Linked DNA regions of Homo sapiens. The protein of the gene in region 1 interacts with the protein of each later gene in a biochemical or structural test. Each region holds a gene or a part of one and is shown in the gene's direction. Other genes may lie near its edges.

What was found.
Region 2: the proteins of AMFR (region 1) and MGRN1 form a complex in vitro, tested with the Homo sapiens proteins (one study listed by BioGRID).
Region 3: of the proteins of AMFR (region 1) and RETREG1, one has a biochemical effect on the other in vitro, tested with the Homo sapiens proteins (one study listed by BioGRID).
Region 4: of the proteins of AMFR (region 1) and DHFR, one has a biochemical effect on the other in vitro, tested with the Homo sapiens proteins (one study listed by BioGRID).
Region 5: the proteins of AMFR (region 1) and DERL1 form a complex in vitro, tested with the Homo sapiens proteins (one study listed by BioGRID).
Region 6: the proteins of AMFR (region 1) and UFD1 form a complex in vitro, tested with the Homo sapiens proteins (one study listed by BioGRID).
Region 7: the proteins of AMFR (region 1) and USP13 form a complex in vitro, tested with the Homo sapiens proteins (one study listed by BioGRID).

What each region holds. Positions count from the first base shown.
Region 1 is NC_000016.10:56,360,952-56,363,748, reverse strand, and holds the end of AMFR (E3 ubiquitin-protein ligase AMFR), read left to right. Parts: intron 1-692; coding exon 693-840; 3' UTR 841-2,297; downstream 2,298-2,797. UniProt on the Homo sapiens protein: E3 ubiquitin-protein ligase that mediates the polyubiquitination of lysine and cysteine residues on target proteins, such as CD3D, CYP3A4, CFTR, INSIG1, SOAT2/ACAT2 and APOB for proteasomal degradation.
Region 2 is NC_000016.10:4,627,327-4,631,958, forward strand, and holds part of MGRN1 (E3 ubiquitin-protein ligase MGRN1), read left to right. Parts: intron 1-4,632. UniProt on the Homo sapiens protein: E3 ubiquitin-protein ligase. Mediates monoubiquitination at multiple sites of TSG101 in the presence of UBE2D1, but not of UBE2G1, nor UBE2H. Plays a role in the regulation of endosome-to-lysosome trafficking.
Region 3 is NC_000005.10:16,476,898-16,481,529, reverse strand, and holds part of RETREG1 (reticulophagy regulator 1), read left to right. Parts: intron 1-436; coding exon 437-521; intron 522-2,542; coding exon 2,543-2,680; intron 2,681-3,431; coding exon 3,432-3,496; intron 3,497-3,741; coding exon 3,742-3,868; intron 3,869-4,632. UniProt on the Homo sapiens protein: Endoplasmic reticulum (ER)-anchored autophagy regulator which mediates ER delivery into lysosomes through sequestration into autophagosomes.
Region 4 is NC_000005.10:80,625,319-80,629,079, reverse strand, and holds the end of DHFR (dihydrofolate reductase), read left to right. Parts: 3' UTR 1-2,854; downstream 2,855-3,761.
Region 5 is NC_000008.11:123,031,576-123,036,207, reverse strand, and holds part of DERL1 (derlin-1), read left to right. Parts: intron 1-4,632. UniProt on the Homo sapiens protein: Functional component of endoplasmic reticulum-associated degradation (ERAD) for misfolded lumenal proteins. Forms homotetramers which encircle a large channel traversing the endoplasmic reticulum (ER) membrane.
Region 6 is NC_000022.11:19,472,274-19,476,905, reverse strand, and holds part of UFD1 (ubiquitin recognition factor in ER-associated degradation protein 1), read left to right. Parts: intron 1-1,302; exon of another isoform or gene 1,303-1,303; coding exon 1,304-1,436; intron 1,437-1,805; coding exon 1,806-1,838; intron 1,839-4,632. UniProt on the Homo sapiens protein: Essential component of the ubiquitin-dependent proteolytic pathway which degrades ubiquitin fusion proteins.
Region 7 is NC_000003.12:179,659,018-179,663,649, forward strand, and holds part of USP13 (ubiquitin carboxyl-terminal hydrolase 13), read left to right. Parts: intron 1-4,632. UniProt on the Homo sapiens protein: Deubiquitinase that mediates deubiquitination of target proteins such as BECN1, MITF, SKP2 and USP10 and is involved in various processes such as autophagy, endoplasmic reticulum-associated degradation (ERAD), cell cycle progression or DNA damage response.

The sequences.
Region 1 (2,797 bases):
CACTGGGCCCCACTGGTCTACCTCTGATGCTGGTACTGTCAGTCATCTCCCATGGACCCCTTTGGCCACGCTTGCCGAGAGAGCACTTGTGTGCTAACCTGATCTAAGCCCTTTATATGAATTACTTTAACAGCTCTAAGAGGGAGCACTGTTAACCCATTCAGCTGACATACAGCTGAAGAAATGGAGGCTGGAGAGGTTAGCACTGGCCTGGCCCTGGCGTCTGTCTCCCAGGTCCTCCCTGTTGACCACTCTGCCTTTCAGCTGAGCATTGTACACACACTCAGCGCATCTGTGCGTCACACACCCATGGTTGGTGGCAGCTACAGCAGGTGTGTCCTGTGGATAGAGGGGGTTTTGTTCCAGCTCTTAAGGACAGGGCCAGCACTGTGTTCCTCAAGTGGGTTTGGGCCCTGGCAGACCCTGTGATTGTGGGAGTTCTGTGCTGTGTCTGTGGGTGGAGGGGATGGGCAGGAAGAGACAGCAGGGAACAGCACTGAAGGGTTCCTCCCTGGTGCAGAGAGAATTTGCGCCCATCTGTTGGGGGCTGGATGTCTTGGTCATTGGGTGGTGCTGAGTGACAGCTTCATGAAGGTGCCTGGACATGGGGAGATGTGAAATCAACCTTCTGGCTGTGTTCCACAGCTCCCCATCTCTCCTATGAGAGAGAAAAAGTCTTCTGTTTTTTCTAGACGTTTCTTGAACAAAAGTTCTGAAGATGATGCGGCCTCAGAGAGCTTCCTCCCCTCGGAAGGTGCGTCCTCTGACCCCGTGACCCTGCGTCGAAGGATGCTGGCTGCCGCCGCGGAACGGAGGCTTCAGAAGCAGCAGACCTCCTAGCGCTCCCTTGCCTTCCTCAGCTGCCTCCTGCGCCCTGTGCCCGACTGACTGGAGGAGGCCTGTCCCAATTCTGCCCGCTCCATGGAAAAGCGGGCTTGACTGCATTGCCGCTGTATAAAGCATGTGGTCTTATAGTGTTTGGACAGCTGATAAATTTAATCCTTCTTTGTAATACTTTCTATGTGACATTTCTCTTCCCCTTAGAAACACTGCAAATTTTAACTGTAGGTATGATCTCTTCTGGTGTTGACTGGACTGCTTGGGGTGGGGGACGATCAGGAGGAAGTGAGCAGTCGCCTGCCTGCAGCAGGCAGCTTCTACTCCTGCCTCATGCGTACGTCCCACAAATGCAGGTGTCCTGAGCACCACACCCAGTGGGAAGAGTGTGGGGGAGGCGCACAGTGTGAGCCCGCCCCCACGTCGTGGGGTAACATCTGTTATCAAACTGCTGTCGTTGTTGTGGAAGCATGTAGACTGTGCCAGAGGCCAGACCCACGGGCTCATGCACCCCTGAGCCAGCAGGGCATCTTGGAAAAGGAACTCTTGGTTCGATACCTGGAGCAGAGGAGGGGAAAGTCCAGGGCTATAGGGTGTGATGAAGTCACCCCTTTCTGTCCCACTACATCTGGGACTGACTTTCCGAGCCTCCAGTCCAAAGCCGGCTTGATTTCCGTGAACTCTGGTGCTCCTGCATCTCATGAGTGTGCCCCATGGGTCCCCTCCCCTCTCAGCATTTCCTTGTCCCGTCTGGACCTGGGGAGTGGTTAGGCAGCAAGCTTTGGTTTATGGTTTTCATTCATTGGTGAAGTAAATTAGGCAGTGCTAAAGCCTGTGGGTTTGGTCCTTGAACAAGATGTGGGCCTTGCAAGATGGGAGAGTAAACCTTGAAGGGCTTTATTAAAGAAATAAAAAAGAACTTTTGTATCTTTTATCCTGGGAGCACTGCGTTTTCCTAGCTGTGTTATTCCTGGTTTAATTCAGCAGAGAAGGTAAGGTGTGAACCTACCTGCCTTGGAGAGGGCCCAGGTCCCAAATCTCTTCAAATTCTTCACATGTTTAACTTTAAGGATTTGAACCATGAAGTCATAGGTTACAGACCTCAGTTTTATGCCCCATTGGATTACTTTTTTTTTTTTTTTTTTTTTTTTTTTTTTTACTCTTTGAAAGCTTTGTTTTGTGGTAGTCCTTTTGGGAAGAATCCAGTATTATCCACAATTATTGGCAAAGTTTAAATGTATTTTACATAACGGAAAGTTTTTAGAATGTTGAAAAGTAATTGAAAAAGGTGATAGGTAAATTTTTAGGCAAAGATAATTTATTTCAATAAATCTTTCAAAAGCCTTACCTTGAAATGCTGTTAGTAAATTTCTGTGATTTTTTTTTTTAATTTGTTTTGCTGAGAGCATAGCTATTTGTTTTTATTGTAAAACAATAATAATAATAAAAAGCAAACTCTATTGGTGTGTTGTGTGTGGCTGGAAGCTAAGGCATGTTTTTGTGTGGCTGGAAGCTAAGGCATCTTTTTCCAGAGGTGCCAACGTTAAACCCCATTTTGATTTGGATTTTGTGTATACTATTTTGGTTGGAGGGTTTTTTCCCATGTTTTTGAATTGGGAACTTTTGTTTTTCCTAGTAGTGTATTTGGGGAAGGCAGAACTACATTTTTCTTCCCCTTGTATTTATATCTTTTTTTTTTTCAGGTAAGTGTGTAGCGAAAGATTATTTTACTGTCCTCGAATTACATTATACTTCACACGTTGCACCCATTGTAGGTGCCACTAATTCCACATGTTCACAGGTTTCTGATGTGTGAAAAGAGAAAATTACTTGGATCAATTTTAGAGGGTCTTGACACATTACAAAACAGCCATATCACAGTGTTTAGAGCAGGAGCTTATTAAGTAGCTTAAAATGATGCAAGAAGTGAAGTTCTCAGTCCGCCCTTCCATTTTACACC
Region 2 (4,632 bases), about 52 Mb from region 1:
GGAACTTTCAGCATGTTCTGCAGCAGCGCTCAGCTTGAATTTAATATTTGCTTTGTTTTCACTATATCTGTTTTACTCTTCATAGCTTTATTGAGATGTAGTTCATGTACCACACAACTCATCCATTGTAAACATGATTTGATGATTTTTAGTTAAATTATAGAATTGTGCAGTCGTCTGGCCAGGCGCGGTGGCTCACGCCTATAATCCCATCACTTTGGGAGGCCAAGGCGGGCGGATCACAAGGTCAGGAGATGGAGACCATCCTGGCTAACACGGGGAAACCCCGTCTCTACTAAAAATACAAAAAAATTTAGCCGGGCGTGATGGCAGGCGTCTATAGTCCCAGCTACGCGGGAGGCTGAGGCAGGCTGAATTGCTTGAAGCTGAGAGGTGGAGGCTGCAGTGAGCCGAGATTGCGCCACTGCACTCCAGCCTGGGTGACAGAGCGAGACTCCGTCTCAAAAAAAAAGGCTGGGCGCGGTGGTTCACGCCTGTAATCCCAGCACTTTGGGAGGCTGAGGCAGGTGGATCACAAGGTCAGGAGATCAAGACCATCCTGGCTAACACCGTGAAACCCCATCTCTACCAAAAATACAAAAAATTAGCTGGGTGTGGTGGCGGGCACCTGTAGTCCCAGCTACTCAGGAAGCTGAGGCAGGAGAATGGTGTGAACCCAGGAGGCGGAGGTTGCAGTGAGCCGAGACTGCGCCACTGCACTCCAGCCTAGGTGTCAGAGTGAGACTCCGTCTCAAAAAAAAAAAAAAAAAAGAATTGTGGGTGGGTGCGGTGGCTCACGCCTGTAATCCCAGCACTTTGGGAGGCCGAGGCAGGCGGATCACGAGGTCAGGAGATCGAGACCATCCTGGCTAACACGGTGAAACCCCATGTCTACTAAAAATACAAAAAATTAGCCAGGTGTGGTGGCAGGCGCTTGTAGTCCCAGCCACTCGGGAGGCTGAGGCAGGAGAATGGCATGAACCCGGGAGGTGAAGCTTGCAGTGAGCCGAGATCACGCCATTGCACTCCAGCTGGGCGATAGAGTGTGACTCTGTCTCCAAAAAAAAAAAAAAAAAAGGAGGGGACATTGAAGCAACAACAACAAAAAAAAGAATTGTGCAGTCATCACCACAATTGCAGACATTTCCCTTGTAAAAGTTTCCTTCCATCTGTTTGCAGAGTCCCTACCCCAACCCCCACCCTCAGCCCATCAGCGATCTGCTTTCTTTTTTCTTTGAGATGGAGTGTTGCTCTGTCGCCCAGGTTGCAATGCAGTGGCATGATCTCGGCTCAGTGCAACGTCCGCCTCCTGGGTTCAAGCAATTCTCCTGTTTCAGCCTCCTGAGTAGCTTGGATTACAGGTGCGCACCACCACGCCCGGCTAATTTTTAAATTTTTGGTACAGATGAGGTTTCACCATATTGGCCAGTCTGGTCTCGAGCTCCTGACCTCAGGTGATCTGCCTGCCTTGGCCTCCCAAAGTGCTAGGATTACAGGTGTGAGCCACTATGCCCAGCCTTTTCTGTTTTTTTTTGAGACAGTCTCGCTCTGTTGCCCTGGAGTGCAGTGGTGCAATCTTGGCTTACTGCAACCTCTGCCTCCTGGTTTCAAGTGATTCTCCTGCCTCAGCCTCCCAAGTAGCTGGGATTATAGGCACTGGCCACTATGCCAGGCTAATTTTTGTATTTTTAGTAGACACGGGGTTTCACTATGTTGGGAAGGCTGGTTTCGAACTCCCGACCTCAGGTGATCTGCCCACCTCAGCCTCCAAAGTGCTGGGATTACAGGGGTGAGCCACTGCACCTGGCCTGCTTTCTGTTCGTATGTGTGTGTGTGTGTGTGTGTGTGTGTGTGTGTGTGTGTGTGAAAAGTGTCTATTTGAGTCTTTTGTCCAATTTTCAAAAACTGGATTGTTTATCTTACGGAGTTGTAACAAAGAGTTCTTTATGTGTTCTGGATAGGATTCTCCTGTCAGCCATGTGATTTGCAAATATTTTCTCCCAGTCTGGCTTGTCTTTTAATTTTCTTAATGGTGTTTCTTTTGAAGAGCAAAAGTTTTGAATTTTGACGAAGTCTCATTTACTGCTTTTTAAGTGGATACTGCTTTTGGAGTTATGTTTAAGAAATCTTGGGCCCAGGCATGGTGGCTCACGCCTGTAATCCCAGCACTTTGGGAGGCCAAGGTGGGCGGATCATGAGGTAAAGAGATTGAGACCATCCTGGCCAACATGGTGAAACCCCATCTCTACTAAAAATACAAAAATTAGCTGGGCGTGGTGGCACACACCTGTAGTCCCAGCTGCTCAGGAGGCTGAGGCAGGAGAATTGTTTGAACCCGGGAGGCGGGGGTTGCAGTGAGCCTAGATCGCGCCACTGCACTCCAGCCTGGTGAAAGAGCGAGACACCGTCTCAAAAAAAAAAAAAAAATCATACAGGCGGCTGGGTGTGGTGGTTCATGCCTGTCATCTCAGCATTTTGGGAGGCTGAGGTGGGCGGATCACCTGAGGTCAGGAGTTCGAGACCAGCCTGGCCAACAAGGTGAAACCTCGTCTCTACTAAAAATACAAAAATGAGCTGGACGCAATGGCGCACGCCCGTAATCCCAGCTACTCAGGAGGCTGAGTCAGGAGAATTGCTTGAACCTGGGAGGTGGAGTTGGGTTGCAGTGAGCCAAGATCATGCCACTGCACTGCAGCCTGGGCAAACAGTGAGACACCATCTCAAAAAAAAAAAAAAAAAAAAAGCGCAGGTGCAGTGGCTCGCGCCTGTAATCCTAGCACTTTGGGAGACTGAGATGGGTGGATTGCCTGAGCTCAGGAGTTTGAGACCAGCCTGGGCAACATGGTGAAACTCCATGTCTCCTAAAATACAAAAAATTAGTTGGGTGTGGCAGCATGTGCCTGTAGTCCCAGCTAATTGGGAGGCCGAGGCAGAAGAATCGCTGGAACCCGGAGCGCGGCAGAGGTTGCAGTGAGCCGAGATTATGCCACTGCACTCCAGCCTGAGCGACAGAGTGAGACGCCGTCTCAAAAAAAAAAAAACAAATAGAAAGAAAAGAAATCTTTGCCTAGGTCAAGGTCACAAAGATTTTCTCCTATTTTTTTCTAGCATTTTGTTGTTGTTGTTGTTGTTGGTTTTTTTTGAGATGGAGTCTCCCTCTGTCACCCAGGCTGGAGTGTAGTGGCATGATCTTAGCTCACTGCAGCCTCTGCCCGGGTTCCAGCGATTCTTCTACCTCAGCCTACTGAGTAGCTGAGATTACAGGTGCGAGCCACCACGCCCGGCTAATTTTTGGATTTTTTAGTAGAGACGGGGTTTTCACCATATTGGCCAGGCTGATCTCAAACTGACCTTGTGATCTGCCTGCCTTGGCCTCCCAGATTGCTGGGATTACAGGCGTGAGCCGCTGTGCCCGGCCTTTTCTAGAAGTTTTATAGTTTTAGCTCTTACATTTAGGTCTTTGATCCATTTAGAGTTAATTCTTTTTTTTTTTTTTTTTTTTAATTTTGAGATAGGGTCTTACTCTGTCATTCAGGCTAGAGTATAGCGGCATGATGTCACTCTAGCCTTGACTTCCTGGCTCAGGTGATTCTCCCACCTCAGCCTCCCAAGTAGCTGGGTTTTCCCAGCTATGTATGTGTACCACTATGCCCAGCAAAGTTTTTGTATTTTTTTTGTAGAGACAGGGTTTCACCGTGTTGTCCAGGCTGGCCTCAAAGTCCTGGACTCAAGCAATCTGCCCACCTTGGCCTTCCAGAGTGCTGGGATTACAGGTGTGAGCCGCTGTAGCTGACCAAATTAATTTGTTTCACTTATGGCTTGAGATAAAGATCTAAACCCCCCTTTTTTGTGGATGGAATTCAATTATTTTAGTATCATTTGTTGTAGAGACTATCATCTTCCCATCAAATTGCCTTTGCACCTTTGTCAAAAATTAGTTGACCTAAGCCAGGCATTGTGGCTGGATAACAAAGCAAGACCATGTCTCTTAAAAATCAAAACAACAGCGACAAGAACCCCACCAGTTAACCATGAATGTGAGGGTTTATTTTGGGACTCTCCATTCTGTTCCATTGATTTATGTGTGTCCCAGAAGTTCTCAACTGGGGCATTTTTGCCCTCTCAAGGGACATTTGGCCATGTCTGGAGACATTTGTGATTGTCACAGCTGGGGGCATCTGTTGGGTAGAGGCCACAGGACAGTCCCCCACAATTAAGAATAAATCGGCCCAGAATATCCATAGTGCTTAGACTGAGAAATCCTGGTCTGTTCTTAGACCAGCAGCACACTGGCTTGTTTACAGTAGTTTGATAGTAAGTTGTGAAATCAGGTAGCATAAGTTCTCCAACTTTGTTCTCTTTCAAAATTGTTTTGGTTATGCTAAGTTCTTTGCATTTCCATATACATTTTATAATTAGCCTGTCAATTATTTCTACAAAAGCAGCCTGCAATTTTGATAAGTATTACATTGGATATATAAATCTATGTGGTGAGAATTGCTGTCTTTACAGTGCTGACTCTGGGAATCCATGAACATGGTATATCTCTACATTAATTTTGATATTTAGCTTCTCAGTTGTTTTTTTTTTTCAGATAACTTTACCTATTTAAGGCAAGTGATATTTGCCAAT
Region 3 (4,632 bases), on another chromosome or scaffold:
GCTGTGTTTTTATGAATTTCAGTGGGCTTATAGTGGTAGTTTGAACTTTCAGATGTAGTTATCAGGCCGCATTAATTTCCTTAAATGAGCGAAGTAAAAGAAGTTTCTGGGAACATAATAGTTTTCTGTTCTCTTGCACCTGGCAGTAATATAGCCACAGGCATGAGTAATGGGAGTTGTCACTCTCTGTGCCAGAAATTAGCTCCTGTGTCCTCAAAATAATTATTACCAAGTGTTGAAATGGACTAAGACTGGTTGAATGCAGCAGTCATTAGTCAGCCCTTAGTGCAAAATAATGCTCTTTGGAAAAAATCTGTAATAACCAGATAGGTCACTTATACCGGTCACTATAGATTTACAATTGTGTGTGTATCCTGTGCTCCGAAATATCTTGGTGTTATGCTTAACTATCCCATGTTATTTCTATTATTTCCAGTTTTGTCTCCTGGTCTGTAGTGTGTGCACATTTTTTACGATCTTGGGAAGTTACATTCCTGGGGTTATACTCAGCTATCTACTGTGTAAGTATAGTAGAACATATGGCTAAGTGTTGTGATGCATATGGTATCACCTTACGGTCAACAGACCTGTAGTTTGAAGAGGGGGGATGAGTTCTTAACTATAATACAAGTTGATTATTCTTTAATCTCCTGCTGTACAAAGTTTCTCCATTTTCCTAGAGACATGTCTCTATTTTAAAATTGGAAGAATAGCTGCAAAAGGCAGAATTATAAGTGAATAATTTTATGTTAAATTTTGTCAGTAAAAGTATACATAAAGCTGTATGCCCCACCTCCCAAAAACACACCAACACCTTTGCCTTCGTGCGTGTTCTTTGGCTCAAAAAAATAATTAAAACCACAATGAAATACCATTGCATCCCTACCAGAATGGCTAAAATTAAAAATACTGACCACATCAAGTATTAGGAGGGATGCAGAGCAAGTGGAATTCTCACATACTGTTGCGGGGTAGGTAGAATGTTAAAATCACTTTGGATAACAGTTTGGCAGTTTCTTAAAAACTACTACATGACAAAGCTATCCCACAACTAGGTACTTACCCAAAAGAAATGAAAGTACAAAGACATAAATGTTCATAACAGATTTATATGTAGTAGCCAAAAGCAGAATATAATCCATACATCCATCAATTGGAGGAATGGGTAAGCAAACTGTGGTATATCCATATAATGGATTACTACTTAGCACTAAAAATGGATACATACAACACTAAAGATAAATCTCAAAATAATTAGACTGAGTAGACAAAACCAGATGAAAAAGTGTGATTCCATTTATATATTATTCCAGAAAATTCAAACAATCTTTAGTGACAAAGCAGGTCAGTGGTTGCCTGGGGATGAGGTGGGTGGGGGCAGGGAGAAGAGGCAGGAGACTGGAAGGAAGGTTGAATAAAACCATGAGAAAACTTCATGTCTACTGGTAGACATGTTCACTATCTTGATTATGGTGATGGCTTCTTAGTTGTATGCATATGTCAAAATTTATCAAATTGTACACTTTAAATACATGTATTTTATTATACATCAATGACCACCCAAAAATGTTATTAAAAAGTATGGATTTTCTTCACCTGAAAACTATGATCTGGCACTGCTACCTTTCGATGGGGCAGGCACTCTCCACTTAACATACCCCCATATTTTCCAATTTTTCTTACAATGGACTTTAAAATTTACATACAATTTCTTGGCCTCTAGAGACATTTGAGTTTGTAGCTCTTATTTTAAAATATAATACGGGACACTTCCTAAAACGAACAAAGAAATAAATATTGGGAATACAATACTTAGAGTGTGGCAATCTTTGCTTCTTTTTGTATTCTTAATGCATAATGCAAATGGCAAATGGTCAGAGCTCAAATCCATTCTCCCCAAAAGAAGTCATATATAACATCAGCCTCATGATGACATTGTTTAGGAGGTAAAGGAGAAGAGGACTGGGGAATGAAAGAATAATTTGGGCAAGGCATTATTCAGATGGTTTGCATTGATTTCATTTATGCTTCACAACAACCCCAAGAAATAATGTTACTATCCTAATATTATTGATGAGAGGCTAATAACTTTCCCATGGTGAAATGGCATTGAATAAACACAGTTAAACCAGGACTGTTGTCTGGAAGGCATGTAATTTTTCTATAAATTTTGAGAATAAAAGGATTGAAAGGAGGGAGTTGATCTAACTGCACCTGGAAACAATGACTGTGAGCATTGTGTAAGTGTGGGTATGCATGTGTGTGTTTGTGGGTGGTGGTAGAAAATGTTTACCTTACAGAAAAAGAATAGAAATTATAAACTTGTGTAAGTGTGGGATGCATGTGTGTGTTTGTGGGTGGTGGCAGAAAATGTTTACCTTACAGAAAAAGAATAGAAATTATAAACTTATTTCACAATGGCATTTCCCTTAAAAAAACTTAAGTTTTTCAGTAAAGAAATGTAGTATTTTGTGAAATACTGAAATGTACGTAGCCTTTTGAAAGGAAAGGCATTTTACCTCTGCTCTCTTTCTTCTTTCAGTACTGTGTGCATTTTTGTGTCCATTGTTTAAATGTAATGATATTGGACAAAAAATTTACAGCAAAATTAAGTCAGTTCTGCTGAAACTGGATTTTGGAATTGGAGAATATATTAATCAGAAGAAACGTGAGAGATCTGGTAGGTAAAGTTTATATTTTAGATTCTATGCATGAAATGAGACATTAGCGAGCTATTTTTAGGAAATTCTTTAATACATTTGAGGATACTTTTAGCTTTTTACTAAATATTATTATAGAAGCTAATCTCCCTCAAAGTTATATATATCCTTTTCCTATTTGGGCTTTCCTTCTTTTCTCAAATATACAATTAAATAAATTGACTTTTTAATCCACAGTGTCAGGGGAGAAAGAAAAGGCTTCAACACTCTTTATTGTGCTACTTATGATTTACTTAGTTTTATTTTGGGTTGGACTATCACAAAGAAAAAGAAAATACAGGAAAAGCCAATATAATCATCTCTTACTTTTTAACTTGGCTTATGACCTTATAGGTTCTCAAACTAGAATGTATCGGAGTCACGTGGAGGGCTTATTAAAGGACAGATTGCTAGGCCCCAGCCCAGAGTTTCTGATTCAGTAGGTCTAGGGTAGGGCCTGAGAATCTGCATTTCTAAAAAGTTCCCAGGGAGGATGCTTTTGCTGTTTCAGGGACAATATTAAGAGAGCCACTAATGTGGATCATTTCCTTTGCAAATATGTGAAGCTTGTTATGTGCAAACATTTAATTATATTTGTAGTTAAGAATATGAGAAATATATATTTGTATTTGGAGAATATGAGAAATGTGGGGTAAGAATACATAATGAAATAAATGCACTATGTCTGAGTTGGCTAGGAAACTGAAAGCTTCCAAATTTTTTCCTCAACAGAAGCAGACAAAGAAAAAAGTCACAAAGATGACAGTGAATTAGACTTTTCAGCTCTTTGTCCTAAGGTATTTTTTGTTTAGTTTTCAATTTGTTCCTGTGTGGTTTGACTGTAAATGCATGTATGCATACAAAGCTGAATGATCTTCCTAATAAACTCCTCATATTTCTGTAAGATGACTGAATGATTTCAAAATAAAAATATCCATTTGGTTTTTATTACTCTGTCATTTTGGGGGTTCATATGGATTTTTCAAAATATTCCCTTCAGCAGTTTAAAATGTGCCGCTGGTATTTATTTATATTAACACAGATTAGCCTCACGGTTGCTGCCAAAGAGTTATCTGTGTCTGACACAGACGTCTCAGAGGTATCCTGGACTGATAATGGGACCTTCAACCTTTCAGAAGGATACACTCCACAGACAGACACTTCTGATGGTATGCTAATATTTCTGGAGACATTTATTTTTATGAGTGCATACAAAACTATTGAACTTCTGTCAAATACTGAATGGGTAAATAACATGTTACCACCATATCTACACAGTAGAATATTACTTGGCTATAAAAATGAAGTCCTGATACTTGCTACAACATGGATGAACCTTGAAAACATGCTAAGAAGCCAGACACAAAATGCCACATACTGTGTAATTCCATTTATATGAAATGCCTAGAATAAGCAGGTCCATATAAAGGGAAATTAAGTTAGTGGCTGCTATGGACTGATGGAGGGAATAGTGAGTGACTGTTAATTGGTATGCATTTCTTTTTGGAGTGATGAAAGTGTCCTAGAATTAGATAGTGATGCTGCTTGTACAGCTTTATGAATATACTAAAAAACACTGAATTGTATACCTTAGAAGGGTGTTTTTTTGGTGCATGAATTATCAAAAGCTGTTTTTTAAAAAGTATGAGGAAAATAAATCAGTCAATGTCCAAATTTGCCTTTATTTTGAAAACAAAATAATCAAAAATTAGAAAAATTACCTCCTGAAATGTCTTTGAAATGTCCCAAGCGATAATGTGGGAGAGAAAGATAGACGCTAATCCTACACATTTAGGCCTAGTCCTCATTAAAAGGGGCTGAAGTATGGACGTCAAGTTCCCTGAGTCCAAAGCTGACTCCGGAGTTTCTCACATTTGTCTTCAAAGTTAAAAAAGCTTTTTATTTTTATTTTTTTTGTTTCTGACTTTTAAGT
Region 4 (3,761 bases), on another chromosome or scaffold:
GTGTTTTCTAGTTTAAGTTGTTCCCCCTCCCTCTGAAAAAAGTATGTATTTTTACATTAGAAAAGGTTTTTTGTTGACTTTAGATCTATAATTATTTCTAAGCAACTAGTTTTTATTCCCCACTACTCTTGTCTCTATCAGATACCATTTATGAGACATTCTTGCTATAACTAAGTGCTTCTCCAAGACCCCAACTGAGTCCCCAGCACCTGCTACAGTGAGCTGCCATTCCACACCCATCACATGTGGCACTCTTGCCAGTCCTTGACATTGTCGGGCTTTTCACATGTTGGTAATATTTATTAAAGATGAAGATCCACATACCCTTCAACTGAGCAGTTTCACTAGTGGAAATACCAAAAGCTTCCTACGTGTATATCCAGAGGTTTGTAGATAAATGTTGCCACCTTGTTTGTAACAGTGAAAAATTGAAAACAACCTGGAAGTCCAGTGATGGGAAAATGAGTATGTTTCTGTCTTAGATTGGGGAACCCAAAGCAGATTGCAAGACTGAAATTTCAGTGAAAGCAGTGTATTTGCTAGGTCATACCAGAAATCATCAATTGAGGTACGGAGAAACTGAACTGAGAAGGTAAGAAAAGCAATTTAAAGTCAGCGAGCAGGTTCTCATTGATAACAAGCTCCATACTGCTGAGATACAGGGAAATGGAGGGGGGAAAGCTGGAGTATTGATCCCGCCCCCCTCCTTGGTTGTCAGCTCCCTGTCCTGTGTGTGGGCGGAACATAGTCCAGCTGCTCTATAGCAAGTCTCAGGTGTTTGCAGTAAGAAGCTGCTGGCATGCACGGGAACAGTGAATGCCAAACACTTAAAGCAATTCGATGTTTAAGTATGTAAGTTCTTTTTTTTTTAGACAGCGTTTCGCTCTTGTTGCCCAGGCTAGCATGCAATGGTGTGACCTCGGCTTACTGCAACCTCCGCCTTCCCAGATTCAAGCGATTCTCCTGCCTCAGGCTCCCAAGTAGCTAGGACCAGGTGCGCGCCACCACGCCCGGCTAATTTTTGTATTTTGTATTTTTAGTAGAGATGGGGTTTCACCATGTTGGTCAGGCTAGTCTCGAACTCGTGACCGCAAGCGATTCACCCACCTCAGCCTCCCAAAGTGCTGGGATTACCGGCTTGAGCCACCACACCCGGCACATCTTCATTCTTTTTATGTAGTAAAAAGTATAAGGCCACACATGGTTTATTTGAAGTATTTTATAATTTAAAAAAATACAGAAGCAGGAAAACCAATTATAAGTTCAAGTGAGGGATGATGGTTGCTTGAACCAAAGGGTTGCATGTAGTAAGAAATTGTGATTTAAGATATATTTTAAAGTTATAAGTAGCAGGATATTCTGATGGAGTTTGACTTTGGTTTTGGGCCCAGGGAGTTTCAGATGCCTTTGAGAAATGAATGAAGTAGAGAGAAAATAAAAGAAAAACCAGCCAGGCACAGTGGCTCACACCTGTAATCCCAGCGCTTTGGGAGGCTAAGGCAGGCAGATCACTTGAGACCAGCTTGGGCAACATGGCAAAGCCCCATCTCTACAAAAAACACAAAAATTAGCTGGGCATTGTGGCGCACACCTGTATTCCCATCTAGTCAGGAAGCTGAGATGGAAGAATTAATTGAGCCCACGAGTTCAAGGCTGCAGTGAGTCGTGATTGTGCCACTGCACTCCAGCCGGGGTGACAGAAGAGACCTTGTCTCGAAAAGGAATCTGAAAACAATGGAACCATGCCTTCATAATTCTAGAAAGTTATTTTCAACTGATAAATCTATATTCACCCAAATAATCAAGGGTGAAGGTAAAATAATACATTTTTAGACAAGCAAAGACTCAGGGGTTACCTCCATGTGCCCTTTTTAGGGAAGCTGTTGGAGAAAATACTCCAGCAAAATGAAGGAGTACACAAACCAGAGAATGACATGAATCCAGCAAATAGGATCCAACACAGGCAATATTCCAGCTATGGAGCTAGCTTTAAAAAGGAACAGTAAAAATATTAATCGGTTAGCTGGGTGGAATGGCCCATGCCTGTAGTCCCAGCTACTCAGGAGGCTCAGCAGCAGGACGACTTGAGCCCAAGAGTTCCAGACCAGCCTGGCCACCTTAGTGAGATCCCTTCTCTTAAAAATAATAACTTATTGCCAGATTTGGGGCATTTGGAAAGAAGTTCATTGAAGATAAAGCAAAAGTAAAAAAAAAAAAAAAAAAAACAAGGGGAAAGGGTTGGTTAGGCAATCATTCTAGGGCAGAAAGAAGTACAGGATAGGAAGAGCATAATACACTGTTTTTCTCAACAAGGAGCAGTATGTACACAGTCATAATGATGTGACTGCTTAGCCCCTAAATATGGTAACTACTCTGGGACAATATGGGAGGAAAAGTGAAGATTGTGATGGTGTAAGAGCTAAATCCTCATCTGTCATATCCAGAAATCACTATATAATATATAATAATGAAATGACTAAGTTATGTGAGGAAAAAAACAGAAGACATTGCTAAAAGAGTTAAAAGTCATTGCTCTGGAGAATTAGGAGGGATGGGGCAGGGGACTGTTAGGATGCATTATAAACTGAAAAGCCTTTTTAAAATTTTATGTATTAATATATGCATTCACTTGAAAAACTAAAAAAAAACAATAATTTGGAAAAACCCATGAAGGTAACTAACGGAAGGAAAAACTAAGAGAATGAAAAGTATTTGCCTCTGGAAAGAACAACTGGCAGGACTGTTGTTTTCATTGTAAGACTTTTGGAGCCATTTAATTGTACTTAACCATTTTCATCTATTTCTTTAATAAGAACAATTCCATCTTAATAAAGAGTTACACTTGTTAATAAGTGCTGGCCTCCTGTTGTTCTTTGTACACCCCACACAAAATTTCAAAGAAACTTTGATGGCAATATATCTCCATGGTCAGCTTAAAAATAGAGAAAGGAAAACATAGAATTAGCCAAGAGTCACACAAAACAAAGATCAGTTGTTTGTTAGGAAACAATCAAAATCAAGTCTCACTTTTTCCAGATTGGCTTATGGAACAGCACTGTAAGGTGATAACTTGGGGCAAACATGTAAATAATAAAACATATGTTTTAAATATTCAGGTTAGCACATTTTATGTTTCTGTGAGATTAAAATTGTGTGTGACATACCCGCTTCCTTAAAGGCAATGTTTCTGAAAATGTTGTACCTGCTATTCCTGAATCAGGGATGGGTCCCAGAATCTGCCTTTTAAACATCTCAGATAATCTGAAGCCTGCTTAAGTTTGTAAGGCACTGCTTTTGCACTCTAAGGAAGAAAAAAACAAGTTTTAATTCCCGTCTCTAGAACATCTCAGTGAAGCAAAACAGGAAAGCAAATTATAAGTTAGTATATGTAAGATTTCAGAAGGCAAAGTTGTAAAGATTAGATTTCCTTAGCCTGGGAACATGGCAAAACCACGTCTCTACAAAAAATACCAAAAAAATTAGCTGCGTATGGTGGTGTGTGCCTGTAGGCCCAGCTACTTGGGAGGCTGAGGTAGGAGGATCACTTGAGCCCAGGAGGTGGAGGCTGCAGTAAACCAAAATCGTGTCATCACTCCAGCAGCCTGGGTGACAGACCAAAACCCTGTCACAAAAAGATTTCCTTGTTGCTGATCTGTTTTAAGAACAAGACGTTCTTAAATGTGTAATGCAAATACATATAAAACTATTTAATATCAGTAACTCCAAGAGAACGAGTAAACAAACTAGATTTCCCTTAGCAA
Region 5 (4,632 bases), on another chromosome or scaffold:
GTGCTGCTATGAACATTCTAATACATGTCTTGGTGAACATATGTACTTCTTGGTGAGGAGAAATAGTAATTTCTGTTGCCTATATATCTAGGAGTAGATTTGATGGCTTCTAATTGCTCTTTTTAAAGATTAAGTGCCTTTCATTTGTTTAAATGAATGGAAGGGGCCTTTTCTTGCCTACCCGTTGTGTCTCCCCACCCAGCAAAAAAGGCCACAGTTTACTAAACTAGCATTTGTCACACAGGTGCTCATCATCTTTCTTGCTTGGTGACTGATATATACTTAAGTCCGAATCAAGTGATCCTTATTATTTCAGACAAATCCTCACTTTTCATACTTTAAAAAAAAAAACACTAGATTCTGGATGGCAAATTATTTCAGTAGCAGATTGTTTAGAAGATTTTAGCTAAAGGATGGCTGCAACCTACACTCTGAAGTTGTTGGACTAATAACTGAGGAACAATGTCTTATGTCTTCTTTAAGGGTGTATATAGCAGTGAGCACATGGGCTACATGTCCTTGTTAAGTGAGGAACTCTAATTAGGGCCCAGCTTTCCTCCTGAAAAAACTGGGATCATTATGGGCCTGGCCTTGAGGTTGCTGTGGACTTAAAATGAGATACTCCCCCACGAGTCCTCTCAGTAAGTGTGAGGCAGGCAGTCCTCTGTCTGCAAGTCGTGGCTCTTTGTGCTGCAGTTGGCTGCCTCTTAGGCTTTCCAGGGTTGAAAATGGGCCTCTTCACTCCTGGCACTGAACGTAAAGCCAGTTCCTTCTCCTTACTGTTTACATATCAGGTCGAGGAAAAAATGGGATTTAGTTGGATACTTACAATGGGGATTTCCGAAATATGTTACACTGTGTCCTTCTAAAGAGATAAGCTGTCTTCTGGTGTTTTCAGATTATAATTTTAAAGTAACACAAAAATAATATTAAGTCTTTTAGATCAATGAAAGCAAGTATAACTCAAGGGTAGGCTTAATGAACAGGGAAAAGAAGTGAGATATTTTGACAGACACTGATTTCCAAAGAACAGGTGCAAACAGTGACTAAAAATAGTCTTATGTCATCAGCATTAGAGAAAATGTAGTCAGACAAAAACAAGGTTTCTTTTCCAAAACCAGGCCTTGAGTAACTTATAGGAATATGGGGGTAGTTGAAATATGAATTTATAAAAACTGGTTAGCGGGTGTTTCCGAAAAGATTGTGATAATACAATTAACACACCCACACATATTAATTCTTTTTGCATAGTATCTTTTTAATTCACTTTCTTAATTCCAACCTTTTACAAATCCTGTAAGATAAGGAAGGCAGAAGTCATAGGATAATGTCATTGGGTAGATGATGAAGCCAATTTGACGTCCATACTTTTCCAAGGGTCCAGGGCTACCTAGAGGGTTTGCTTCTGGTCTTTACTCCCAGTCCTTTTCTTAAGCACAGAGAATTAATTAGTAGGTTTACTCTGAGTCTATTTCAGGATTACACAAGTGTCTGTAGTAGTGAACACTTACACTAATTGTAATTGTACCTCATAATACTGACGCCATTTGTGAGAGGGATTGTAAAAATAGGGGCTTAGTATCACAAACTCTGGAGTCAGACTGTCTGGGATAAAATTCTAGCTTCACCACTTACTGGCTGATACTTAACCTTTTCTCATCCTGTTTCCTCATCTATGAAATCCGTCTCCTGAATCAGTGCGTGTAAATAAGCTGAGTAGCACATTAATTTATTGATTTCTTTAAAAAAATTAACTATGGAAATTGAGGCTCGGAAGTGGTGACTTATAAGCAAAAACTTAAACCCAGGTCTTCTCAAGTCATCTCCAGTTCCCTTTCCACTAAACTATCCTGTTTCTGTGATAAAGTTGTGAATGAATCAAACCAAATGTTAAACTATTTTATTTTTCTGGTTTAATACACGTTTCTTGGAAAGTCACTTTTTTGGTATGCACATTGCATTTCCCTCTACAAGGAATTAAGCTCTGAGGGTTACATTCCTGTACTTGGAGAATGGAACTGGCCAGTCTGTATGTGGCCAGTCCCCGTGACTGACGTCCTCCATTCCAGCCACACTTGAATTGTTAGCAGTACCCATTCAGTTATTGTGCTCTTGCAATTCTTGGGGCCTTTGTAACAAGTCCACATGTCCCCTCCCTTGTGCCAACCCTTTCTTCCTTTGACAGCCTTCCCCACTACTCTGAGGAATTCAGGGGCCATGTCTTTTGTGCTTGGTACATGCTAGTGTGCAATGAGATAGACACATATCTCTCACACCAAAAGCCAGCATTTTGCTGCCATTTCCAAAAGTTTAGGAAGGCCATCTGCTTCAATCACTATTTAGCATTGTTCTGGTGGGGGTGCCAGCCAGTGAATTAGACAAGAATGAAATAAGATACAAAAGTTTATTTACAGCTAGGGTTGTATGCTTGGAAAGCCCAAGAAGCTCAATTTTCTTTTTTGTTAAGACATAGTTTCGCTCTTGTTGCCCAGGCTGGAGTGCAGTGTTGTGATCTCGGCTCACTGCAACCTCTGCCTCCTGGATTCAAGCGATTCTCCTGCCTCAGCCTCCCGAGTAGCTGGGATTACAGGCATGTGCCACCACGCCCGGCTAATTTTGTGTTTTTAGTAGAGACAAGGTTTCTCCACCTTGGTCAGCCTGGTCTCGAACTCCCGACCTCAGGTGATCTGCCCACCTCGGCCTCCCAAAGTGCTGGGATTACAGGCATGAGCCACTACTCCCGGCCGAAGCTCAATTTTCAATATTGTAGGCAGTAAGATACTCAGCTTTTGTGGTTAAGTATAAAAAGGTAGAAAGAGATAGCTCTATAGACAACTCTAAAAGCTATGAAAAACTTCTTGGCTGGGAATTATATCAATATCACATGGATATAATAAAAGAATGGTTCTAATTCATTTAGAAAAATAAAATATTGAGACTAACCAAGAAAATTGTGACAATTGTTGAAGAAAAAAAGGGGGAGATATTATTTAGCTGTTTAACTTTACCAGCTATTAAAATATGTTATAAAAGGAATAGAAACTAGGCTAGGCCCAGTGGCTCATGCCTATAATTTCAGCACTTTGGGAGGCTGAGGTGGGAGCATCATTTGAGGCTGGTAGTTTGAGAGCAGTCTGGACAACATAGGAAGAGCCCGTCTCAAAAAACAAACAAACAAAATTACCAGGTGTGATGGTACATGCCTGTAGTCCTAGCCACTTGGGAGGCTGAGTGGAGAATTGCTTGAACCCAGAAATTTGAGGTTACAGTGAGCTGTGGTCAAAACACTGCGCTCCAGCCTGAGCAACAGACTGAGACCTTGTCTCAAAAAAAAAAAAAAAAAAGAAAATAGAAATTAAAATAACTTGATATTGGCATAGGAACCAATTCCAAACAGAATGGTGTTAAAATAGACCTACATGTAAAAGAGACTAGAGTATAAACGTTCAATGAAAGTAGTTTTTCAAATAATTGGAAAAAATGTGGGTTACTCTGTAAATGGGGTTGGGAAAACTGGGTGACTATTTAGAAAAACAGTTGGATCTCTTCCTCATTCCTTGGATGCACCTTGAAAGTGCTAAAATAAAACCATGAACACTTACATTCTTGGAGCGAAAAGACTTTCTAAACATGACACATCATGGATACATATGCCTACATTTAATTAAACTTTTGTATGTCAAAATATGGCAAAAACACCATGAAAGTCTAATGACATCAGAAAATGCTTGCAATGATGAGAAAGAGAAATTTCATAATGTATGAGGAAATGCAGCCAGGTGCGATGGCTCATGCCTGTAATCCCAGCACTTTGGGAGGCCAGGACAGGTGGATTGCTTGAGCTCAGGAATTTGAGACCAGCCTGGGCAACATCAGGAGACCCTGTATCTACAAAAAATATAAAAATTAGCCAGGTGTGGTGGTGCATGCTGGTAGTCCCAGCTACTTGGGAGGCTGAGGTGGGAGAATCACCTGAGTCCAGGAGGTGGAGGTTGTAGTGAGCTAGGATCATGCCACTGCACTCCAGCCTGGGCATCAGAGCAAGATCCTATCTCGGGGGGGAAAAAAAAAATGTAAATCCAGAAAAACAAATGAATAAAGGAAATGCTCAGGTTTTTAAAACGTGAAAAGGTGCTTGACTTCTCATAATGCAAATAAAAATTAGTTTTCAGATTGGTGAATATATAATACATGAAATGGTGAGAGTATGGAGAGAAGACAGGATTCATCTACTTTTTAGGAGGAAGTATAAATTGAGCAAACATTTTTGTAGGCATTTGGCAGTATCTACCAAAATAAATGGTTATGTCTGTTGCTCTAGCAGATTTATTGACAGGAACTTATTCTGTATATGCACATATAAAGAGGATATACAAGAATATTCATTGTGGCATTGTAACAGTTTAAACAAAAGTTTAGACATTCACATACAAGGAATACTATGAAGCCAATTAAAATATTTTGTAGGGAATGAACCAAGGTATAAAACAGTGCCGTATAGAGTAGGATAAAGAAGAATGAGTAATAGTAACATGTATTTCTTAGAGGAAATACAAGACACTGATCAGCTGTTGTTGGGGAACTGGGAGACTGGAGGTTGGGAATGAGGCTTACTTGTTACTTTATTATTTA
Region 6 (4,632 bases), on another chromosome or scaffold:
CCTCCTGAGTAGCTGGGATTACAGGCGTGTACCACCACGCCCGGCTAATTTTTGTATTTTTAGTAGAGAGAGGGTTTCACTATGTTGGCCAGGCTGGTCTCAAACTCCTGACCTCAGGTAATCCACCTGCCTCTGCCTCCCAAAGTGCTGGGATTATAGGCGTGAGCCACCGCACCCAGCCTATAAATTAAACTTTATTGTAGATATGTATAAGAAAATTGTAGATATGTATAAGAAAAAACATAGTATGTATAGATTTCAGTATTATCTGTGGTTTCAGGCGTCCACTGGGGATGTTGGAATGTATCCCCTGTGGATATGGGGGTGGGGGGTGGGAGGAATACTGTACTTTGAGAAAACCTTCAAATTGATACATGTTTGCTAAGCCTCATCTTAGTCTACAGTTTAAGATCTAGGATCTTATCTTTTTAATGGCATCATGTTTTAGCTTTGCTTGTTGCTGTAAGAAAGCATCATAACATAGTGTAACGTGTACCTACTTTGTGCTGTGAGAGCACGCTGGAGAGGCACTAGACCTGACCCTCAGCAGAGCAAGAGAGGCTTCCTGGGGAAAGGAAAGGATGGTAATTGGAACCCAGGGGAAGGGGTGCAACCACTGGGTACCTGTTCTTCCTGCTGCCTGGAATGTCTTTCCCTCTTTTTTGCCTGGCTCCCTCTCATAGCATTCAGGTCTTTGTGCAGAGTCCCTTCCTAACCACCTATTTAAAATAGCATTCCCAGGAGCCCTGTGTCTACTTACCCTGCTGCTTGTCTTCAGAACTGCCAGACACACATGTGTGTGTGTCCGTTGCTTGGAGTGTATATCTCTCTTGCTTTGAGTGTCATTTTCACCAGGACAGGGGTGGTATCTATTTTGTTAGTGGACAGACATCACTGGAGTGGTGCTTCCCTTGTGCTCATATCAGAGCCTGGCAGACAGTAGGCACTCAATAAAGAGATGTTTCAATTAACAAATATTGTTTAGATTAATGATAATAGGAAAAGTGTTCAAGGCAGAGGAACTAGCCCAGGCAGGAGTCTGTGGGGCTGTCAGTACAAGTCTCTGAGGTATGCAAGAGGTTGGGCCTTGATCCTGAGGATGAAGATGGGAGCATAGCCCTGAAAAAGGTTCAGGACAGGCTTGGCATGGCCTGTTTTGTATTTAGTAAGATTACATTGAAGATTTCAGTACATTGTGTTCTCTGACAATGTTTAGTAGCATTAATTACTCTGACATGTTTTGGCTTTTGACATGAAGAAATGTACCTTTGTTTTAATACTTGTTTCTCTTTCCTCCTTCTAGTTCTCTTTCAACATGTTCGACCACCCTATTCCCAGGGTCTTCCAAAACCGCTTCTCCACACAGTACCGCTGCTTCTCTGTGTCCATGCTAGCAGGGCCTAATGACAGGTCAGATGTGGAGAAAGGAGGGAAGAGTATGTGCTTGTTTTTATTTGAATAGTAACTTTTCCTGCCCTAAGTCTGCAATGCTGTAGCCTTCAACAGTACTTACTTTGCATGTGGGAGTCAGAAGCTAGTGTTACTGTGAAAATGGTGCTGGGATTTATCCCTGACTTGCTCTGTTGGGGTGGGGTGCTAATTATGGTTAGGTTTATGGCTGATAACCATTCAGTTCCCAAAATAAATTACATCAAGTAAGATTCTTCATGAAAGATCACTGGGACATTCTGGCTACCCTAAAAACAGTTTAAGGCTTTTTGTTAGATATAAAGAAACTGCATCTTGCCTTTGGTCTGTCCTTTTTATTTTTATTTTTTAATATTTCTTAAATGTTCTTTCCACAGTAATTATGCCACCCTCGGCCCTGGACCAACTCAGTAAGTATCTTCTGAGTGACTTAAGGACTTAGATAATGTACATATGGACACCAAGAGTCAGCATGGGCTCCTCAGTACATCCAGACACCAGTGCCCTTTGTCAGCATCTGGTTGTGAATTGTCCGTGGAGGGCATGCGCTGGGCTGGGAGAACCTGGGTCACAGGTACCTAGGGCGAGGCCAGGGCCCCCTGAACCTCAGCTTCATCACTGCCCTGGGTGCTTCAGGTTCCTCCTCTGTGAAGGGGGTTCCCTTTCCCTTCCTGATCACCACCTCCACCCACCCCCCAACTGTTCTCAGTATTCTGTCAGGATTAAGTGAAGGTACAAGTATCAAGTGCTTTGTACCGTGCCAGGGCAGCTGATGCCATTGGCTGGGCTCACTAGATTTTTTTCCTAAAGGAAGAATTGGTCAGCTCACAAGAGGGCGCTGTGAGCAGGTTCCTCATCCCCTCACCAAACATCTTTCCTGAGCTCCAGACCCCCATTTCTTTTCTTTTATTTATTTATTTATTTATTTTTTGAGACAGAGTTTTGCTCTTAGCGCCCAGGCTGGAGTGCAGTGGCGCAATCTTGGCTCACTGCAACCTCTGCCTCCCAGGTTCAAGTGATCCTCCTGCCTCAGCCTCCCGAGTAGCTGGGATTACAGGCACCCGCCACCACGCCCGGCTAATTTTTTGTATTTTTAGTAGAGATGGGGTTCCGCCATGTTGGGCAGGCTGGTCTTGAACTCCTGACCTCAGGTGACCTGCCTGCCTCGGCCTCCCAAAGTTATGGGATTATAGGCGTGAACCACCATGCCCGGCCCAGACCCCCGTTTCTAATCTCCAGTGCACCAATGCATCCTCAGCATGTCAAAAACTGAGCTATTGTCTTCCATCCAGAAGCCACTCCTCTTGCTGGGCTCCTGCCTCTTACCAGGAGTGAGATAGGCCCACAGGGGTTCTAAGAGTGGCCACATTCTTCCTCCCTTTTCTCTGACCCCTTATCCCATGAGAGCAACCTGGAAACCCATGCCCTAGCCCCATACTACACAGGCACAGAAAATCCCTATCATGGACAACCCAATCAAGGATGCAGTCATTGCCTTCCAGACTTAAAGAGTGTTTCTGGTGTGAATTCTTCCTGTGTGAGGCAGGAGACTGGGGTTGGCCAGGAGGACAGGTTCATGCTTGGTTTTGGGGGCCTCTGGTGGCAGCAAGCAGAGAACAGGTGCTGGCTGTGGTGTGACTCACCTCGGGCTCTTTGCCCAGCCTGACTCCAGAGTAGCAACTTGACCTCTCTGAACCTCAATGTCCTCTTCTTTAATTGGGGATATCTACAGTGTCTGTGCATCAGAAGTACTGTAGTGTCTGTGACAACCTAAGCTATCCGATTCCAACCACAAGGTGGAGGTAGCCCCTGAGCCAGCACTGGCTGTGGCTATACCCAGTGGAGGCCTCAGCTCAACCAGTAGGTCAACAGAGCTATGGAGTTCACAGTTCTCACGAAGACCCTGTCATTACAGAGGAGAGAACAGGCTCCCTAAAAAGGTCTTCCTTTCAAGTCATGCTGACCCAGGAGCCAGACACCAGGGGTGACCCTTGGCACAGGTGTCCAGAAGAGACTCAGGGGCTGGGTCATTGAGGTGTAGCTCAGATCAGTGTTGTTCAAATCTTTTAAGTGATGGGAGAAACTCTTTCTGTCTAAATCTTATAGGAAGTCCTCTAATTCATAAAATGAGGTTCTCTGCTTTTTTTGGAGAAAGTGAGGGGGTACAGAGGGACTGGGAGCCCCAGGGCACTGGGAGCCTCTAAGTCACAAAATGCAGTTTGAGAGTCAGTGGACTGAGGGACATTGGAGTCTCTTTCACTTGCAACAATCTCAGACCCTTGGCTGAGCCCAGTCCAGTTTACTGTGGACCAGCTGTATGTCAGCTCCATGGCTGTGCAGCTGAGAGGTGGACCGGGACAGAGGTCCTGGCCCCTTTACTGCCAGTGTGAGAGTCACCCTTGGTGATAGGAGGGAGTGCCCACCCTTACTGTACCTCCATGCTACTCTCAGAGGTTCTCTGTAGCTTCCTGCCCAAGCTTTTAACTTGATTTGCTTTATTAGAATTTTTAGGGAGATCTCAAATGGAATCTGCGTTACTTCCTAACACTAAGTGTGATTTTTATTGGAATATTTGTCTGAACTAACAAGCTAAATTCTGCTTTGATGGTTGAATCCCTGGACTTAAGCCAGCAGCCTTGGTTTGAATCCTGGCATCACCACTTGTGTGCTGTGAGGTCTTGTGTGCTCACCACTTGTGTGCTGTTACTTAACCTGTGGGCCTTAGTTTCCCCATAGATAAAAGGGGATAATGATAGTACCTACCTGACTGTTCTGGGAAGACTGAACAAGGGCCTTACACATGGCAAACACCATCACTACCATCAGTTCCTTCTCGGTCTTCTCCCGGGGGCCCAGTGTCTCCTGGGTTTTCCTGCCTCTTTTTGCCAGCCCTTCCTTTATGTGCCTGTGCACCTCTTGGGTCAGCACGTCACCAGTCCAGCTTACTTGCCTCTGGCCTTGCTTTCAGCCCACACCTCAAGGTCCATCAGAGAGAGGGGGCGTCCTATGTCATGACCCTGCTGAGAGCTCACACTGCCCGCTGGGCCCAGGCCCTAGGTTCTACCCCGTGTGGTGCCCCTCCCCTTCCCAACCACTCGCACACCTGTCCCCAGCCTGTCTTGCCTAATTATCCACCATTTCTGAACTGCCTGGGCTCCTCTTCCCTTCCACGCCTTTGCTCAGGCTGCCACCTCTGCCTGGATT
Region 7 (4,632 bases), on another chromosome or scaffold:
ACTCCCACCTCTTCTTCCCTTCTCGCATTGGGACTGTTTTTTAAGAAGGAGCTTTTTTCCCATTTTTGAAAGCTCTGAGATGGCTCGGTGATATTGAGATGTCACTGTTGGTTCTTTGTCTTCCTGGGAGTCTTTGGAAACTCTGATGGACAGGGGCCATCAGGTGGGAGTGGCTGGTTTAGATATCCACCAGGAAAGACTTTGAGATCTCCATCTACTTGTGGGAACACTTCATGTTAGGGGCTCAGTGAATCCTCTGTCTTTCTGTCCTTTCTTCCACAAGTATTTAGTGGTGTGCCTGGTATTCTCTCAGGCATTGCCAGTAATAATAATGACATCTCACATGTATATAGAGCAGTTTTCAAAGCGTGCTCCCTGAACCAGCAGCACTAGCATGTCTTGGGAACTGCTAATTCTGTTTCAGAAGATCTGGGGGTGGGGGTGTAGCAGTCTGTGTGTTAATAAGCTCTTTGCATGATTCTGAGACATGCCAAAGTTTGAGACCGAGTGATAGGGCACTTACTAGGTGCCATGCATCATTCCAAGCCTTCTAATTATTGCATATATTATTATACCTACATGAACTCATTTAATCATCACAACAACCCTATGTTATATACTATTACCATTTTGCAGATCAGGAAACTCAAGTACAAAGATCACCCAGAGAGTAAGTAGGAGAGCTGGGATGTGAATCTGAATTGTCTGACTCTAGAATCTGTTTTTAAAAAACCATTTTGGCTGGGCGCGGTGGCTCACACCTGTAATCCCAGCACTTTGGGAGGCTGAGGTGGGTGGATCACCTTATGAGGTCAGGAGTTCGAGACCAGCCTGGCCAACATGGTGAAACCCCGTCTCTACTAAAAATACAAAAATTAGCCGGGCTGGGTAGCGGGCGCCTGTAGTCCCAGCTACTCAGGAGGCTGAGGCAGGGAGAATCGCTTGAACCTGGGAGGCAGAGGTTGCAGTGAGCCAAGATCCCGCTATTCCACTCCAGCCTGGGCGACAGAGCGAGACTCTGTCTCAAAAAACAAACAAACAAAACATTTTAACTCGATTTAATTGTACAATTCAGTGGCATTAAATTACATTCGCATGGAAACATTTTAACTCGTTTTAATTGTACAATTCAGTGGCATTAAATTACATTCGCATTGTTGTGTAACTATCACTATGCATTGTTGTGTGAATATCACTACTGTCGATCTCCAGTTTTTCATCCTTCCAAACTGAAACTCTGTATCCATTTGACAATAAACCCCCACTTCTCCCTTCTCCTAGCCCCTTGTAATGTCCATTCAACTTTCTGTCTCTATGAATTTGCTTATTCTAGGCACTTTATATAAGTGGAATCACACAGTATTTGTCCTTTCGTGTCTGGCTTATTTCATTTAGCATAATGTTATCAAGGTTCAGTGTTGTAGCATGCATCAGAATTTCCTTCCTTCTTAAGGCTGAATAATATTCCATCATATATATGTACATGTATTACATTTTATTTGTCCATTCACCTGTTAATGGACATCGGGTTGTTTCTACCTTTTGACTGTTGTGAATAAAGCTGCTTCAGTTGTTGGTGTACAAGTATTTGTTTGAGTCCCTGTAGATTCTCTGCATTTTACCATTGTACTATGCACGTTGCCTTGCAGTCAATGAGACTTCCCATCATAATGTTTACTTGTAGGGAGAAAAAAAAGTTAATTTAGGATCTCTGTGGAAAACTCTTCCTCCTGATGGATAAACTGATACAAGGTAGTAAAGCAAAATTTCAGAGCAGACAGACTTTTTTCCACTTTGAAGATATAAACTTAAAGTAAATCTTATTAGTTTCACATGTCAAAAGCTTCCTTCCAAAAGCAACTAGCTGAAAAGTTGTTCTCGAGCAGTGATTCTCAAGCTTTTTGACCTCTTTATACTCTTTAACTATTTTTGAGAACCGCAAAAAGCTTTTGTGTGATTTCTGTTGCTATTTACCATATTAGAAGTTAAAACTGAGAAAAATTTAAAACAATTTGAACAATTACATTCTATTGGCTTTTGAAATGATGTCATTGCATGTCACGTAGCCTTGGGAAAATGCCACTGTGTGCTATGAGAGAATGAGAGAGAGAAAGGCAAGTAACTTCATGTTATGAAAATAGTTTTGACCTCCCAAATTACTTAAAGACTCTGGGGTGTCAGAGGGTTACCAGGCCTTACTTTGGAAACCAAAGTTCTAGAGTTTAGGCAAGAAGATATAACCACTTATTCCAGTCACTTACCTCACCTGAAATGTAGCCTATGGGTTCACATTAAATTATTATCTTAATTTTAGCTCAACCATAGATGTCATATGTTGCATGCACATTCTTTTTGAAGCAAATTAAAATTTAGAGAGTTTGATTGACACTTTTTGAAAAAATTAGAGCTACTTGAGCTGGGAATTTACTATTTCATAGATAGGATTTTTTTTTTTTTATTCTCTGAACTGTGAGTTTCATTGTAGGGTGACCTGGCTGGGCTGTTTCTTTGGGGAAGCTTAAATGTTAGTGTGATTTTTTTTTCTTCCTTTGGCTACCAGGTAGGAGACTATTCTAATCTCTTGCCTGGAAAATACAGGCCTGTCTACCAGTATTTAGGGAACTGAGTGGGAGTGGAGGGTGAAGGTGGTCTCAGCATCTGGGTATTCGATACCAGCTGGATATTGCCTGTAGGTTCTCAGCTGTGTCCCTGCTTTGCTAAGCTTCTCCCATCATTGCAGGGGCTGGCTCCTGGACATTGCATTTCCCAGAGTCCCTTGGTGGCAAGATTCTGATACTGATTTTTCCAGTAAGAGATTTAGAAGGCAAAAGAGAAGGAGAAGCCACTTTGCTATTGCAACTGTGGCACCTGGTCGATGTGAGGTTTTCCTAGCAGCATCTGAGTGTCCTTCTGGGACACAGTTACCTCAGTGGTGGGGATTCTGACGTCATCTGTGCAGTTTCTTGTGACGCTTGTACATCCTGAGTTCCTGAACATAGGCAGTGATTTCTCTGACTGTGGCTCTCATGCCCTTTCCATGATTTTTTAAGCTTTTAATTTCCTGTATCAAATCTCTTCCTGCCTGTAATACCTGAATAGCATCTATTTTCTGACCAAATCTGGACTGATACACATACATTCTCTTAGTCCCCATGTTCGTGATGGTGCCTCTATTCTTAACTAAGCTCATTCTTCCCCAGCGCTGAAACCTTTGTTTTTGTCTGCTTTAGAGAATCACTCTCTAGTTCTTTGCCAGGAGAGGGAGGGGCCTCTTGGAGTGGAGGTGAGGTTTGGGGCTCTGACGGCTACATAGAAAACCTTTCTCTTTATTTTAGCTCCTACTTCACCCCATCTTCCAGAGTTATCTTGAATTGCCAGTTCTGGAGTCTTTTGGGCATTCTGGGGTGAAGATCAGGTTGGATCTTGGCTTTCCCTGCTGCTGGCCTAGGATTCAGCTCTGTTGCCATCTTAGTCTTTTAGCATTCATTTACCTGCCGTCCAGCTTTCCAGACTTTAGTGCTATAGCTTATGTCTTGAAAAAATCCCTTTGCTGTCCTTTGATTGGGGTTTCAGAAAGGAGTGAAATGGATGTCTTTGTGTCATTTGCCATGTGTACCCTAAAATCCTGCTTTTCTAAAATCATAATCAAGAAGTCACTTGCTGTCCCTTTTGGACAGTAGTTCATTACCTTTAAAGTTGTACCATTTTTAGAGCTTTGGAATGTGAGAGATGATGCTGATCCTGTCAGAAAGACTTTTTGGAAAAGTTCATGTTCTCTGCTCATTTTGGATCTGGACATCTGTGCAACTCTGAATTCTCTTTTTCCTCCCCTGCATTCCTCTCCCTATGGACTGGAGCTCAGTTAAAGGAGCGGCCATCCATTTTAGTGCCCCAGATTGAGAGGTGTATGGTATCATCCATTCTACCTCCCTCTCTCTCTTTTTATTTTTTAAGTTGTGATAAAATACATATAACATAAACTTTACCATCTTAACCATTTTAAAATGTACAGTTCAGTGGCATTGGAGTACATTCACACTGTTTTGCAGTTATCACCACTGTCTGTCTTCAGAATTCTTTTCATCTTGCAAAACAGAAACTCTGTACCCTTTAAACAATGACTCCCTGTTCTCCCCTTTTCTCAGCCTCTGACAACCACCATTCAACTTTTTGTCTCTAAGATTTGGCCACTCTAGGTACTTTATACAAGTGGAATCATGCAATATTTGTCCTTTTTGACTGATTCATTTCACTTGGCATAATGTCCTCAAGGTTAATCCATGTTGTTGTGTCAATTTTCTTCCTTTGTAAGGCAGGATAATATCCCATTGTGTGTATATACCGCATCTTGTTTATCCAGTCATCTGTCAGGGACACTGGGTTGCTTCCACCTTTTGGCTCCTGTGAATAGTGCTGCCATGAACATGGCTATCTCACTGTCTCTTTTAGCATCATATCCCATCAGTCACCAAATTCTGGTATATCCTCCTCTCTCCCTTGCACTGCTAAGGCTCGGGCCCTCATCCTTTCTCACCTGGACTGTGGCAGAAGCTTCCTAACAACCACCTTACTTTCCCTTCCAGTCTGTCACACTACACTCTTGGATATTTTTAAAATAGGGGTCTGATCATC